Linked DNA regions of Homo sapiens: region 1 is linked to region 2. The links come from fine-mapping of genetic effects on gene expression. Tissue or cell type: whole blood. Region 2 holds a variant in brackets; the other region holds the start of a gene. All regions are shown on one strand. Distances are between the middles of the regions.

Region 1 (8,104 bases), 400 kb after region 2:
ACATTTAGCTCCTCCACGTATATTTCATTAAAATTCTCCTAAGATAAAAAAACAGCTCCTACATTTTTGGGAGATGAAAAATGTTCATATGTTGATTTGATGATCAAGACTTCACTATATACATTTCTCAAAACTCATCAACTAGAACTTAAAATGGGAGATAATTTTATTGTCTCAATTATACCTCAATGAAGCTAATTCTTAACAGAAACCCCCAAAATCCCAGCTTGCTCCACAACCCAGTCCACTTGATCCCAGATATGTTACATAAAGTAAAAATTATTATTTTTTGAGACAGAGTCTCACTGTCCCCCAGGCTGTAGTGCAGTGGCATGTTCTCTGCTCACTGCAACCTCCATCTCCTGGATTCAAGCGATTATCTTGCTTCAGGCTCCAGAGTAGTTGGGATTACAGGCGTGAGCCACCATGCCTGGCTAATTTCTGTATTTTTAGTAGAGATGAGGTTTCACCATGTTGGCCAGGCTGGTCTCGAACTCCTGGCCTCAGGTAATCTGCCCGCCTTGGCCTCCCAAAGTGCTGGGATTACAGGTATGGGCCACCACGCCAAGCCGTAAAAATTATTTCAACTGATTAACACGCCACTTCTTAGTCTGTGAAATGGGGATTCCAATTCCTAACTTCCACATTGGTTGAAGAGATGAATAGGGCAATGACTATAAAGCCCTGTCCCTGGGACAGGACAATGGCTCAGCACATGCTGACTGAATAATTTTTTACAAGACCTGGTCTGCACCACGAATGCAGCAGCCTGAATAAAGCACTGAGAGAAGAAATGTAGGGACAATGATGGAAGTGTCCTGAATGAGGGCATCAGATCTGGGGAACGTTCCCCATGAGAACCGGCTGAGAGGTTCTGAGCCTCAGATGGGACAGTGTAGGGCACAAGATGTCAGACATTAGCAAAGGAAACCCACCATGGTTTAGGGCAGAGAAGGCACTGCAGGAAGGCAATACATAAGAAGTCCCCACCTGGGGTTGGGCTGTCCTCCCTTACCCTGCAGACAGTCCTCTCACGGGTAACGTGGGAGTGGAGGAAGAGGAGCTGGGGACTAAAATGGCTCTAAAATGAGCTCTGCGATCCTCAAAGGTGGCCTTGGAAATTCCCAGTCCCAGGGTAGAGCCTCTTCTTGTTAAAAAAAAAGGACCCAAAGTCTTCCAGAGAAGAAAACTTTACGCAGGTTCCTGGGAACAGATCCTGAGTGTGGGCATCGCAACAGACCCTGTCCTGACATGATGCTAACACTAAACACAGCATATCCTGTCGGTGCTTCCAGAATAAGGAAGTGTTGATATTCATTATAATATTTAACACTTTTTTAGAATTTAATATATGCCAGGGACGGTTCCAGGCGTGGCACAAATTTTTCTGCATTCAATCTTCACAACTGTCCTATGAAGTGACTATTACCCACCAATTTCAGATGAGGAAACAGGCACAAAACATTTAAATGCCTTTCTCAAAGCAACACAGCCAAGAAAGTGATAGAGCTTGGGTTTCAACTCTCACTGTAAAGGACTATGTCTTAACCAGTAGGCATGGCTATGACATTCCTCAATGAATCTGCACAGATTAGGAGGGGATCTGGGTCAAGCTAGATTAGCTTGCAAGGTCATGAGGTATATCTTGACTGATGGGTCTCTCTACTTGGGGGTTCTGCTGACAATTTTTCCATAATGAAATGATTAAAATCAGTTATTTGGATGGTCAGTCCACAGCCCCAGAGACATTTAAAAAAACTGCTGGGCCCAATGGTTGCTGTTACTCCCACTCCAATAACCGAGGAAGCCCTACCAACCTGGTGAGGACTAAATTCACCTTTTTTCCCTTGCCCAAATGCCTATGTATGAGGCTTGGGGAATCCTGCCCGAGAAACCATAAAATCTCATCAGATGAGTTTTATTACTCTTATATAATGAGGCTCACTTTCCAACCTGACTCTGGTACAGCATCACATGACAGCAGATGCTGAAGGAAATTATTTTACCCCAAAATATACTTCTTTGACATGTTTTGAAGTGGCTGCCACAGGGGCAACAGATTGAAATGGATAGCCCCGCAAAGCTATCTTTAGTGGGAAAATTTGCATCTGCAGCGAATCTCCATTAATGTAGCCAGACCTCCTTTGTTCTAAGCCTTTCTTAGGTCTGGAAGAGACAGCCAGCCTGACGCGCGGTGGCTCACGCCTGTAATCCCAGCACTTTGGGAGGTAGAGGTGGGTGGATCACCTGAGGTCAGGAAGTCAAGACCAGCCTCAGCAACATGGTGAAACCCCATCTCTACTAAAAATACAAAAATTAGCCAGGCGTGGTGGCGGGCGCCTGTAGTCCCAGCTACTCAGGAGGCTGAGGCAGGAGAACTGCTCAAACCTGGGAGGTGGAGGTTGCAGTGAGCTGAGATCACGCCACTGCACTCTAGCCTGGGCGACAGAGCAAGACTCTCTCTAAAAACAAAAACAAAAACACAAAAACCCAAAAAACTGAAAACAGACATTTACCATCTATTCTGAGAGTTGCCAACTAAGAGGCTTCATCTACATAATAAGAACTTTGATCTACGCAATCCCCTTAACTCTGGCATGCTTCTGATTCCAGTCTTCAGGCAGTAGCTTAAGTCTCTCAACCAACTGTCCACTAAAGAATCCCTAAGTGCCCCCATGAGGTGTAAACCCTTTGGAGATATACCAGCTTTTTGGGAGGAACCCGTGTATATCTTTCTCTTATTGATTTATGATTTTCTTTTTGGAGGCAGGATCTCGCTGTGTTACCCAGGCTAGCGTGCAGTGCAGCCAACATAGCTGGTTACAGCCTCCACCTCCTGGACTCAACTGACTGGGCCTCCCAAGTAGCTGAGGCCACAGGCATGGGACACCACGCCCCGCTAATTTTTTTATTTTTCTAATTTCATGTAGAGACAGGGTCTTGCTGTGCTGCCCAGGCTGCTCTGGAACTCCTGGCCTCCCAAAGTGCTGGGACTACAGGCATGAGCCACACTGCTCAGCCTGATTTATGACTTTACCTGAAATTCCTGTCTCCCTGAATTGTATAAAATTAACCTGCAAGCCTGACCATCTCGGGCACTTTCACAGGACCTCTTGAGGCTGAATAACCTGGGCCACAGTCACTCATACTGACTAGGAATAAACCTTTTTAAATATATTTTGGCAGAACCCGGATTTTGCCGTCATTAGCAAGGCCCCAGGGAAGAGGCCACCTGGGTCCCCACAGCCACCTCACCTCCCGCGGACGCTGCCCCACGCAGATCCCCCCCCCCCCCCACCAAAACACGTCTAGACGTGCCCGTGCGAGGACATTTGGTCCCGGCCTACACTCCTATCCGCGGAAGATCGTCCCAAGGCGGGGTGCTCCCAACCCAAAGCAGCGGCCCTTCCCCAAAACACGCGGGCGAAGTCCTCCCCTGTCCCGCCTCCCACAATAAAGTCTGGAGCATCAGAGTCGGAGGGAACCCGAGTCGGACCTAGCCCATCCGTCTCATGGCTGTAACCCCCACCCCACCAGTGGACCCTGGCTGTGGCCGAGTCCCCCTCCACCTCCGGCCAAAAGACCCCCGTGGCAGCTCGCTAGGCCGCTGGCCCGTCCCCACCCGAGGAGCGGCGACCCTGGCACAAGAGGACCTGGGTTGCTCGGCGCCCCTGTGAAATCCGGGCTGTTCACCGCCCGAGCCGCCACTACACGCAACCGGGAACGGAGACTGAGTGGCGGCCCAGACCCGGGGCGCTCGGCAAGCCGCAGCCCCACCGCCCACTTCAAGGCGCGGCCTGGGTCTCCGCCCCTCCCCAGAACGCGGAGACGCCGGGCCTGGAGGAGCGCGCGCTACGGCCCCAGCAGCGCCCTCACGTCCCAGGCCTTCCCGGCCCTTCTTCCTGCGCCGGAAGGGCGCGCTGCAGAGAGGGACCCGCAGGAGCGCAGCTCACCGGGGCGGCTGAGGGCGAACCGAGGCGGTGAGGTCACCGATGGTGGACCACGCATCTCACGGCTCGCTGACGCCCAGGGATCTGGAACGCTCTGCGCCGCCCGGGACTACACTACCCAGAATCCTCAGCGCGGCCGGGACTACGCTACCCAGCATCCTCGGCGCGGCCCGGAGGCTATGCGACCCTGCGCGTCGCATCCCCTCGGTGGACTACACTCCCCAGAGTCCTCGGGAGTCGTCCAGGTACACGCCCCAGAATATTGGTCATAGCGGTCCACCCGGGACTGCGCGACCCGGAATCCTTGGAAGGACTTCTCGGAAGGACTCCTCTCTGACAGGTGGGGCGAGCCTATGGTCGTTTGGACGTGGAGGGATCCTTTCAGAACCGGCGATTTCTTTTATTTAGGTAGCCCTATACATACATTAAGCATATTTTCCCATTTCTATGATATAGGTAAATAATTTTCCCACTGTCTTTTGATTATGGGTATGTCTTTTTTTTTTCTTTTGTTTCTTTTTTTTGCTATGTAGTACTTTTGATCTCTGATTTTCCTACGGATTTTGTGGTTTTATCATTCACATTTAGATCTCTCAATGGTTTAATTTTTCTCCAGGTACACACTGTAAATATACAATTATTTTTAAAATTTTCTAATATTTTATTAATTTCCCATTAAATTTATTAAAAATATAGTCTTTTACCAAATAATTTAAGGTTTCAGCTACATAATTCAGTATACTCAATTTACATTTGCATTTCAATTTCTAATTGTTCCCCCATTTATCTAATTATGCATCAATGCCAGAATTCTTTCATTATGTAGGGTGTATAATATGCTGATATCTTTTGTGGCTTGCCAAACCACGTAGACTTTATATTTCAGGCCTTTACTAGGTATACTTGCTGTTTGCTTTTTCTCTTTTGGTTTTTAAATTTTTAATTATTCTGGATAAATATTAGTTGTACATATTTATAGGGTACATGTTATGTTTTGATACAGGCATACAGTGTTTAATGGTCAAATGAGGGTGATTGGGGTATCCATCCCCTCAAGCATTTAGCATTTCTTTGTTTTAGGAAGTTTCCAATTCTCTCTTATTTTTAAATATATAGTAAAATTGTTCTTAACTATAGTCACTGTATAGTGCTACCAACTACTAGATCTTATTCATTCTAACTGTATTTTTGTATCGATTAACAAGTCCCTCTTTATCTCCTCTACCCACCATCCTTCCCAGCCTCTGTTAACTATCTCATTCTACTCTCCATCTCCATGAGTTCACGTTTTTAGCCCCACAAATGAGTGAGCACATGTGATATTTGTCATGCTGTGCCTCATTTCGCTTAACATAATGTCCTCCATTTTCATACATGCTATTGAAAATGACAGAATTTCATTCTTTTAATGACTGGCTAATATCCCATTGTGTTAATGTACCACACTTTCCTTATCCATTCATCTGTTGATAGACACTTTGATTCTATATCTTTACTATTTTGGATAGTGCTGTAGTAAACATGAGAGTGCAGATATATCCTTGAAATACTGATTTCCTTTCTTTTGGATATATACTCAGCAGTGGGATTGCGGGATCATGTATATATTTATTAATTCTTTTGAGGAACCTCCATACTGCTCTCCATAGTGGTTGTACTAATTTACATTCCTAACAACAGTGTATGAGGGTGTATCCACACCCTCACCAGTATTCACTATTGCCTGTCTCTTGAATAAAAGCTATCTTGACTGGGGTGACATTATATCTCATTGCGGTTTTGATTTACATTTCTCTGATGATTAGTGGCATTGAGCATTTTTTTTCATACACTTGTTGGCCGTTCATATATCTTATTTTGAGAGATGCCTATTCAGATCTTTTCTCCATTTAAAATATCAGATTGTCTTTTTCCTATTGAGTTGTTTTAGCTCCTTATATATATTCTGGCAATTACTTTCTTTTCAGATGGATAGTTTGCAAATTTTTTCTCCCATTCTGTGGATTGTCACTTCACTTTGTTGATTGTTTCCTTTGCTTGCAGAAGATTTTTATGTGATGTGGTCTCATTTGTCCACTTTTGCTTTAGGTGCTTGTGCTTTTGCAGTCTTACTCAAGAAATCTTTGTCCACACCAATGTCCTGGAGTGTTTCCCCAATGTTTTTTTCTAGTAGTTTTATAGTTTCAGGTCTTAGATTTACCTTTAATCCATTTTGATTTGATTTTTATATGTGGTGAGGGGATTGCTTTAGATTTCATTCTTCTGCAAATGGATATCCAGTTTTTGCAGTGCCATTTATTGAAATGACTGTCTTTCCCCAATGTAAGTTCTTTGCACCTTTGTGGGATATAAGTTGAACTATAAATGTGTGGATTTATTTCTGGGCTCTCCACTCTGTTCCATTGGTCTGTGTGCCTGTTTTTATGCCAGCATTTTGCTGTGTGGATTACTATAGTTTGCATAATTTGAAGTCAGGTAATGTGATTCCTCCAGCTTTATTACTTTTGTTCAGGATGGCTTTGGCTATTTTGGATCTTTCATGGTCCCATATAAATTTTAGGATTAATTTATCTATTTCTGTGAAGAATGTCATTGATATTTTGATTGGGATTGCATTGAATCTGTAGACAAGGTGGAATGGACATTTTAATAAGATTAATTCTTCTAGTCCAAAAACACGGACTATCTTTCCATTTTTTGTATCCTTTTCAATTTCTCTCATCAATGTTTTATAGTTTTTGTTGTAGAGATCGTTCACATCTTTGGTTGATTTTATTCCTAGCTATTTTATTTTATTTGTAACTTTTATAAACAGGTTACTTTCTTGATTTCTTTTTCAGATTGTTTGTTGTTGGCATATAGAAATGCCACCCATTTTTGTATGTTGATTTTGTATCCTGAAACTTTACTGAATTTCTTAATCAATTCTAATGTTTTTTGGCTGAAGTCTTTAGGTTTAACTAAATATAGGATCATATCATCTGCAAACAAGGATAACTTCACTTCTTCCTTTCTAATTTGAATACCTTTTATTTCTTTGTCTTCAGTAATTGCTCTAGCTAAGATTTCCTAGTACTACGTTGAATAAAAGTGTGGAATGTGGGAATCTTTGTCTTCTTCCAGATCTTACAGGAAAGGCTTTCAATTTTTCAGTATGATACTAGCTGTGGGTTTGTCACATATGGTTTTTATAATATTGAGGTATATTCCTTTTACACCGAGTTTTTTTTTTTTTTGAGTGTTTATTATGAAGGGATGTTGAATTTTACAAATGCTTTTTTGGTATCCATTGAGATGATCATATGGTTTTTGTCTTTTGTTTTTTTGATATGATATATCACATTTATTGAATTACATATATTGAGCCATCCTTGCATTCCTGGGATGAATTCCACTTGGTCATGATGAGTAATCACTTTAATGTGTTGTTGAATTTGGTTTGCAAGCATTTTGTTAAGGATTTTTGTGTCTCTGTTTATTGGAGATATTGCCTTATAGTTTTCTTTTTTTGTACATCTTTGTATGGTTTTGGTGTTAGGATAATACTGACCTTATAGGATGAGTTTGGAAGTGATCCTTCTTTCTTTCTTTTTTTTAAATAGTTTGCATAGATTGATACTAGTTCTTTATAAAATGTTTGGTAGAATTCAGCAATGAAACCGTCAGGTCCTGGGCTTTTCTTTGATGGGATACTTTTTAATACTGCTTCTATCTCATTTGTTATTAGTCTACTCATGTTTTGGATATTTTCATGGTTCAATCTTAGGTTTTATGTATCTAGGAATGTATCAGTTTCTCCTAGATTTTCCAAATTAATAGCATATAGTAGCTCATAATCATTTCTAATGATCCTTTAAATTTCTATGGTATCAATTGTAATGTCTCCTTTTTCATTTCTGATTTTATTTGTTTTGGTCTTCTGTTTTTTCTTAGTCTGGCTAAAGGTTTGTGAATTTTACCTTTTTTAAAATTATACTTTAAGTTCTGGGGTACATGTGCAGAACGTTCAGGTTTGTTACATAAGTATACACATGCCATGCTGGTTTGCTGCAGCCATAAACCCAGCATCTACATTAGGTATTTCTCCTAATGCTATCTCTCCCCCAGACCCCCACGGTCCGACAGGCCCCAGTGTGTGATGTTCCTCTCCCTGT
Region 2 (8,104 bases):
CTTGAGGCGGACACGTTTCTGGATGTGGCGAGGTGGCCACCATCGTGAGTGCGCAGCAGAGCTGGGGCCTTGGGGCCGGGGAGCCTCCCTAGCTCCTCTACTGACCGTCCCGACGGCAGGTTCCTGTGGCTCTAGCCTCACCCCCCTACAGACCCCAGGAACCAGGAGCGCCTCCAAGGGCCTGAACAAGGCATTTTTGTGCTAAAAACCTTCACCCTCTCCTTCCAGGCAGCGCCCGGTTACCACATGGCCAAGCTGATCATCAAGTTGGTCACCTCCATCGGCGACGTCGTCAATCATGACCCAGTTGTGGGTGACAGGTTGAAAGTGATCTTCCTGGAGAACTACCGTGTGTCCTTGGCTGAGAAAGGTAACCCTGGAAGCCTGTGTTGGACAGAAAACTCACTCCTGCCGGGGAACGGGCGTTGTACTGGCCCCGGGCCTTTCATCCTCAGCCAGTTCAGCTCTGCCTGGACACCCAGACCTAGCCAGCCGGGCTGCAGGCGAGCAGGGAACGGCTTTAGGGAGTGCTCCCCGTGCAGTGCGGAGGACTCACAGTGCGTCCCGGGGCGCCTTGCATGTCACAGGCAGTGTCATCCCCCAACAGGGCACCCTTACTGCCGCGCCTGCCTGGCCTGCCCTCTGTATCCTCCCTCCCCTGCCCTCTCCTCCTGCCCCTCAGCCGTGCCTTCTGCCCTGGGCCCCTCTGCTGGCAGGACCTGCCTGGCCTGCCCTCTGTACCCTCCCTCCCCTGCCCTCTCCTCCTGCCCCTCAGCCGTGTCTTCTGCCCTGGGCCCCTCTGCTGGCAGGACATGCACCAGGCCAGTGGGGTTGTGGGCCCCCAGCTTCCCCCAACTCCACTGCCCCTCCTCCGCCCACATCCTTGCTCCTCACTGCCTGCCTGCTCTTGGGCCCACCAGTGATCTCAGGTGGCAGCACCTGCCTCATCTGTGCTTCCTGAGGGCAGCCTGGGCCAGTCCTGGGGAGACCCTGGGATGTGCTGCCATGTGCCCTGGAGCCCATCAGTTCCCACCCCTGTGGGCTCTACTGGGCAGGAAAGTGATTTGCCCACCAGATGGTGGGAGATCTGAGCCTGGCCTTCTCGTGCTCCCCTCCTGCCGCCGAGGGCCAAGGGCCCCCCCTAGTTCAGGCCGCCTGGGCTTCCCAGGCTGCCGCAGGTGAGAGGGCTGATCTGCTGTTGTTCTGCAAGCTCCGTGGTGCAGGGGGGGATCCCTGGGCACCGTCCCTGTGGCCTGGCTGCTGCCTTGGTGTCCATGTCGCTCCCCCTCTTTAGTGGTGCCTGGCAGGCGAGGTCCCTTGAGGCACTCACGGGCCGGCTTGCCTCCGGCTTGGCCAGGAACTGTGGCTCGTCCTTCCCTGCTCCTCTGACCGAAGCATCTCCTCTCCCCCGTGCTGCCTGAGGCTCCCCTCCTCCTATGTGTTTTGGGGCCAGCTGACTCCTGCTCATCTTTAGAGCAGGCCTTCAGGCACCTGGTCTGGAGTCTCGGTGCTGGCGTCAGGGCCCCGTTCTCCCCGGCAGTGTTGCTGTGGCTGACTGGGCTGCAGCCTGAGGTGAGGGTGGAGAGCAGGTTGTATAGTCAGTGTGTGCACTCACAGCGTGTCTGGGAGCGGTGACCAGTCCTGAGGGACAGGCACAGAGAAAGCGCAGGGCCGTGGCATCTGGCAGCTGCTGGCGCCCAGGAGGTCGCCACCCCTCAGCCGCTCCAGCCTTCTGGCTCTATTCTGGTCTACATTCCTCCTGAAAGGATCCAGGGAGCCGCTGGGGCTGATCAAGGTCGCGGTGATCCAGGGAACGACATTGTCAGCGAGCCAGGACTGGCTCCTTGGCTAGGCCTGGTTTTGGGGAAGGTTTTGGTGCACAGATCCTATGCCACCTGGCTCCTGAGGAGCCCCCATCTTGGACCTTCTGCCTCAAGGATGCCCCAGTCACGAAGGGGAGCCCTGCAGAGGCGGGTGGCCGTGTCCAGCCTGGGCCCCTGTGGGAGCGGGAGTGGGGGCTGGAGCGGGGCCACAGCATTGGTCCCTCCACGACCCAGCCCCGGGTGGATGGGCCGGCTTGTCCTGCAGTGAGCCTTGCGGCTGAGGACATTGGGGTCCTCACAGTGATCCCCTCCACGGGCTCCCCTCCACAGTGATCCCGGCCGCTGATCTGTCGCAGCAGATCTCCACTGCAGGCACCGAGGCCTCAGGCACAGGCAACATGAAGTTCATGCTCAACGGGGCCCTCACCATCGGCACCATGGACGGCGCCAACGTGGAGATGGCCGAGGAGGCCGGGGCCGAGAACCTCTTCATCTTCGGCCTGCGGGTGGAGGATGTCGAGGCCTTGGACCGGAAAGGGTGCGAGCCTGTGCCCCTGGGCACCTGGCACCGTGAGGATGGAGAATGAAGGGTGTTGGGCTGGGGGCATTGGCTGGACTGGGCTCTTGGGGCCAGGCCACTGTGTGCTAGGGTCAGTGCCCACCCAGGGCTGTGTGCCTGCCTGCAGGGGTGACCATTTCCAGGTGCATGGAATGGACGGGGTCCGGGCTGCGGGCGAGGCCCACGTGGGGGTGCTGGGCTGCTCCTGTCTCGGCTCTGAGGCTGAATCTGCGGAGTCCAGACCAGGGGCTCCTCCTCCAGGAAAGGCCTTTTCCCCTGGGGAGGGTCTCCTAGAGGGACACCCCCTGGGCACAGGCAGCCCCACAGAAATGGGCTGGGGCTGGGCAGGACCCCACTGCCAGGGGCGCTCTGCCGGGAGCACTCTGCTGATTTGGGGCTTGCCTGCTGTTGAGGTTCCCTGGTCTAAGTTGTAACTGTTAAAATTGTTTAAAAATAGTATTTTGGAAACATTTTAAATGTGTAGGCCAGGGTCGGGGGGGGTGGGGGAGTGGGGGGGATGGGGGGGTTGGGGGGTGGCAGAGGGGAGGAGGGAATCCTGAAGACAGCACCCAGAGCTTCATCCACCTTATCCCCGCGCCCCTCCGTTGGCTGCACTGAGCTCAGAGCACTGGCCCTCCTGCAGCCCACACTCCATTCCAACTCCACCGGGGTTCTGTTACTGTCTTTCCCATCCCAGGATCCCATCAGGGCACTCCACTGTGTGTGGCCGTCAGGTCTCCCCAGTGTCATTTGGTCTGTGACAGCTTCTCAGTTTTTCCTTGTTCTTCATGATCTGGACGTCATGAGGAATCCAGCACGGGCCTGATTCCAAGCGATAATTACAAAGAAAAGGCAGTGTTGCCTGATTGCCTTGAAGCACTGGGGAGCCTGTGAGGCCTTAAGTAGGGTCAGGTGAAACCACACATGCCATCTGAAGTCAGAGCTGTGCCTTGCTGGCCCGAGCACAGAGGCCTGTGCTCCCTTTCTGCGCCCTCACACAGCTTCTTCTGCCCGGGCCCCGTCCTGGGATGCCCATGTCTGCCCGTCCGTCCCTCTCCCACTTAGCTCTGCCTTGTCCTGTCTGGTCTTGCTTGCGTTTTTCCTTTTCCATCTTCGAGGTCCCAGCCAAGGTGCTCCATTTCACTTCCTGCCCCTCCGGCCGTCTGTTTTTCAAAAGCTCTGCCCAGGATTTCACAGTGAGCCAAGTTCTGAGTGGCCCTCTCCACTAGGAATGTGGCATCAGCCACTATGTCCTAGCAGATCTGCTAGTGATGACATTTCTTTAACAGTCAAAGGAGCAGGTGGGATTGGCTTTAGACTGACTTCACATCTCTGCTCGAGCAGGTCCCTGCTCAAGGGCCTCGTAACCACCCATGGCCACTGGCTGCTGCCCTGGACCGTGCAGGCCTTGAGCTCCCAGGGCCATCCTGGGGCAGGGGCTGTGCCAGGCACCAACATGGCTTGTTCTCCAAGGTGGCCCACCTGGGGCGCTGGCTGCTGACTCCTGGCCCATCGCCTCACAGGTACAATGCCAGGGAGTACTACGACCACCTGCCCGAGCTGAAGCAGGCCGTGGACCAGATCAGCAGTGGCTTTTTTTCTCCCAAGGAGCCAGACTGCTTCAAGGACATCGTGAACATGCTGATGCACCATGACAGGTGGGACCGACTTCCCTGGTTGGGTGGCTGGGAGGGAGGGAGGGAGGGAGGGGTCCTCTTCGTGGGTTGGATATTCCACCTTGTTTGGAGAGCAAAACCCGTGCTTTCAGGACGTCTTCTCCACTGT[G/C]CCCATGAGACCTTACTGGGCAGAGCCTTAGACCCCAGCTGGGAGTTTGCGATGGCCTCTGGCAATGCCAGGGGGCCCTGGGCAGCGAGACACAGCAGCACAGTCCAGCCCCCAGGCCTTGTGGACCAATGTGCTGAGCAGGAGGGGGTGTCCTCTGCTGGTTGGAGGTCCCAGGGGCAGCCGTGTCCCAGCAGGCCAGTAGAGGGAGCATGGGCCCAAAACTCCCTGGGGTGGGGTAGGGGGCGCACAAGGGCTGCGGAACCGCGGCAGGCGTCAGTGCCAGTGACAGGCAGTGGTGAAAATGGATTTCACTTGCAACGATGTGACATTATAATGTAGTTAGTGTTTTATTTCAGTGCAGTTAGCACATGGTATGGTTTATCTAGAGTTACAGACTTTGTAAGGTTTGCAGCTCAGGGCAGTTCTTCACCGTTGGCAAAAGTTGAATCCGGCGAGGGCTGGGAATTCACCTGCCCTCCACTTTCAGCTGCCTTTGGGTTAGTTTTAGTTTTGTCTGCTGCTCTTCGATGACCGTGTCACCTGTTGGCTTCAGTCACACCAGCTCTGACCACATGCTGGGATCTGGGCTGGAACCTGGGCCCTGCTGAGGTCTGTGATAAAGGAAGTGCTTTTAAAATTGTGAACTCTGCATTTCGTGAAGTGTGCTTCTGACTCGATAGTGAACAGAAATGCATTTGTAGATTCATAAATCTGGCATTTTTGTTCAGCACATCAGGAACTGCAAGTCAGTATTTCCTGTGTAGGCAAATCCCAGTTAGACTTAAGACGGCAAATGGAGATGCCGTTCCCCAGCAAGTGCCCCCTGCCCTGAGGCGGCGCCATGGGCTCTCCACTGTCTGCCCAGGAGGCCTCTCCCATGTGCAGCTCTAACTGCCCTGCGTGTGGAAGACACGTTTTAAATGCCAGTTTATTTAAAGGAGTGTTGGGTTGAAATAAGGTTTTTCTAAAATATTGTCCCAGGACATAAGTGTTGCTCACAGAGAAGCCCTGTGGCCAAATGGGCCTGGTGCAGCCTGGCTCTGACCAGCTGCGTGGGTGGGCCCCTTCGCTCCAGACAGGACCAGGTGGATGGTGCCTGGCCTCCTGCCCTGGGACTCTCCCCTCGGGACAGTGTGGGCAGGGCTCCCTGCTGCCCTGGCCCAGCCTCCTTTCTCCCATTCCAGGTTCAAGGTGTTTGCAGACTATGAAGCCTACATGCAGTGCCAGGCACAGGTGGACCAGCTGTACCGGGTGAGGCTCCTGGGTCCAGAGGCTAGGGGAGCAGCTGGGTGGGTCCATGTAGACGTGTTGGGTCAGATTGTTTATTTCCCAAGCTGAGTAGATTCTTGGCCTGGGCCAGAGGGGTTTGTGATTCTGATCTGTCATCAGTCGGCTGTGCCTGCCTTTAGGGAAGCTGTCACTGTCAATGTCACTCCCTCCGTTGAAAAAAACAGCTCCTAATGGCCAAGAAAGGAATGTGCGGCCTGGAAACTGAGTGACGGGCAGGGCCCTGGGAGGGACCTTCTCTTCCCTCAGTCAGGGCTGGCCTCGAGGAAAGGCTGGCCTGGTGTGACCTGCAGCTTGTGGCAGCTGTGAGGCTCCCTGGTGGAAGGAGACTGCCTGGGCATGTCCCCTGGCACTGGATCTGCCTGGGCAGTTCTTACCTGGTGCTATCCCTATCGTCGTCCTGGGGGCCATGCCCTAGCAGGAATTTTCGAGGCTGGGACCTTCTCTCCAGCTCCTTGCTCCCTAGATCTAGAATGCGGTAGCTTTCCTGGTCCGTGGGGTCCCCTTTTCAACGAACAAGTGATTGTAATGTCCTCCTCTTCCAGCGGATGGCCCCAAGGCTCGGAGCTCATTTGGAAACAGTCCTAAAGTTCTGGAATCCCATGTTTTTAGCAGCCCCAAGCCCTGTGACGCCAGAGACTAATTTCATCTCCTTCCCTGCAGAACCCCAAGGAGTGGACCAAGAAGGTCATCAGGAACATCGCCTGCTCGGGCAAGTTCTCCAGTGACCGGACCATCACGGAGTATGCACGGGAGATCTGGGGTGTGGAGCCCTCCGACCTGCAGATCCCGCCCCCCAACATCCCCCGGGACTAGGCACACCCTGCCTTGGCGGGACCAGCGGGCATTTGTTTTCTTGCTGACTTTGCACCTCCTTTTTTCCCCAAACACTTTGCCAGCCACTGGTGGTCCCTGCTTTTCTGAGTACCATGTTTCCAGGAGGGGCCATGGGGGTCAGGGTGGTTTTGAGAGAGCAGGGTAAGGAAGGAATGTGCTAGAAGTGCTCCTAGTTTCTTGTAAAGGAAGCCAGAGTTGACAGTACAAAGGGTCGTGGCCAGCCCTGCAGCTTCAGCACCTGCCCCACCCAGAGTGGGAGTCAGGTGGAGCCACCTGCTGGGCTCCCCCAGAACTTTGCACACATCTTGCTATGTATTAGCCGATGTCTTTAGTGTTGAGCCTCTGGATTCTGGGGTCTGGGCCAGTGGCCATAGTGAAGCCTGGGAATGAGTGTTACTGCAGCATCTGGGCTGCCAGCCACAGGGAAGGGCCAAGCCCCATGTAGCCCCAGTCATCCTGCCCAGCCCTGCCTCCTGGCCATGCCGGGAGGGGTCGGATCCTCTAGGCATCGCCTTCACAGCCCCCTGCCCCCTGCCCTCTGTCCTGGCTCTGCACCTGGTATATGGGTCATGGACCCAGATGGGGCTTTCCCTTTGTAGCCATCCAATGGGCATTGTGTGGGTGCTTGGAACCCGGGATGACTGAGGGGGACACTGGAGTGGGTGCTTGTGTCTGCTGTCTCAGAGGCCTTGGTCAGGATGAAGTTGGCTGACACAGCTTAGCTTGGTTTTGCTTATTCAAAAGAGAAAATAACTACACATGGAAATGAAACTAGCTGAAGCCTTTTCTTGTTTTAGCAACTGAAAATTGTACTTGGTCACTTTTGTGCTTGAGGAGGCCCATTTTCTGCCTGGCAGGGGGCAGGTCTGTGCCCTCCCGCTGACTCCTGCTGTGTCCTGAGGTGCATTTCCTGTTGTACACACAAGGGCCAGGCTCCATTCTCCCTCCCTTTCCACCAGTGCCACAGCCTCGTCTGGAAAAAGGACCAGGGGTCCCGGAGGAACCCATTTGTGCTCTGCTTGGACAGCAGGCCTGGCACTGGGAGGTGGGGGTGAGCCCCTCACAGCCTTGCCCCTCCCCAAGGCTGGCAACCTGCCTCCCATTGCCCAAGAGAGAGGGCAGGGAACAGGCTACTGTCCTTCCCTGTGGAATTGCCGAGAAATCTAGCACCTTGCATGCTGGATCTGGGCTGCGGGGAGGCTCTTTTTCTCCCTGGCCTCCAGTGCCCACCAGGAGGATCTGCGCACGGTGCACAGCCCACCAGAGCACTACAGCCTTTTATTGAGTGGGGCAAGTGCTGGGCTGTGGTCGTGCCCTGACAGCATCTTCCCCAGGCAGCGGCTCTGTGGAGGAGGCCATACTCCCCTAGTTGGCCACTGGGGCCACCACCCTGACCACCACTGTGCCCCTCATTGTTACTGCCTTGTGAGATAAAAACTGATTAAACCTTTGTGGCTGTGGTTGGCTGACATGGGGTCTGTGTTTCACTAACTAACTAACTAACTGCAGGTGGTGGTATGAGACTGTGGGAAGCAGAGAACACAGGCCTGAGGCCCAGGGTGGTGCCAGTGCAGGGATGAGACCTGCAAGTGGGCCACAGGTCCCCCGTCTGAAACTAGAGCCGGGGCTGAATTACACCCCATCATTCTGGGATTGAGGGCAGAAAAGTTTGCATCTCCACTAGGTGTGGAACCCGGGGTCATGTGTGCCTGAACGGCTAGTTTTGTTTTTTTGTTTTTGAGATGGAGTTTTGCTTTTGTTGCCCAGGCTGGAGTGCAGTGGCACGGTCTTGGCTCGCTGCAACCTCCGCCTC

Evidence for each region. PIP is the estimated chance that this variant, and not a neighbour inherited with it, causes the effect.
Region 1: ZNF337 starts here. The variant in region 2 is fine-mapped to the expression of ZNF337 in whole blood (TOPMed, PIP above 0.99).

What each region holds. Positions count from the first base shown.
Region 1 is chr20:25,692,806-25,700,909 of GRCh38, forward strand. ZNF337 (zinc finger protein 337) reads right to left here and starts at 4,048. Exons shown (of 5, transcript NM_015655.4): 1 at 3,954-4,048. It overlaps LOC107985400 (a long non-coding RNA gene), which reads left to right and starts at 4,236. Exons shown (of 2, transcript XR_007067557.1): 1 at 4,236-4,358. RefSeq lists an enhancer at 3,452-3,561.
Region 2 is chr20:25,290,253-25,298,356 of GRCh38, forward strand. PYGB (glycogen phosphorylase B) reads left to right here. Exons shown (of 20, transcript NM_002862.4): 16 at 229-370; 17 at 2,154-2,361; 18 at 3,906-4,040; 19 at 5,352-5,418; 20 at 6,118-7,760. The coding sequence ends at 6,270. It also overlaps a transcript of ABHD12 not described here. Among named protein-coding and RNA genes, the nearest start is that of PYGB, 46 kb to the left of the region's middle. RefSeq lists enhancers at 3,828-4,350, 5,396-5,917. The variant G/C (reference allele first, on the strand shown) is at 4,168.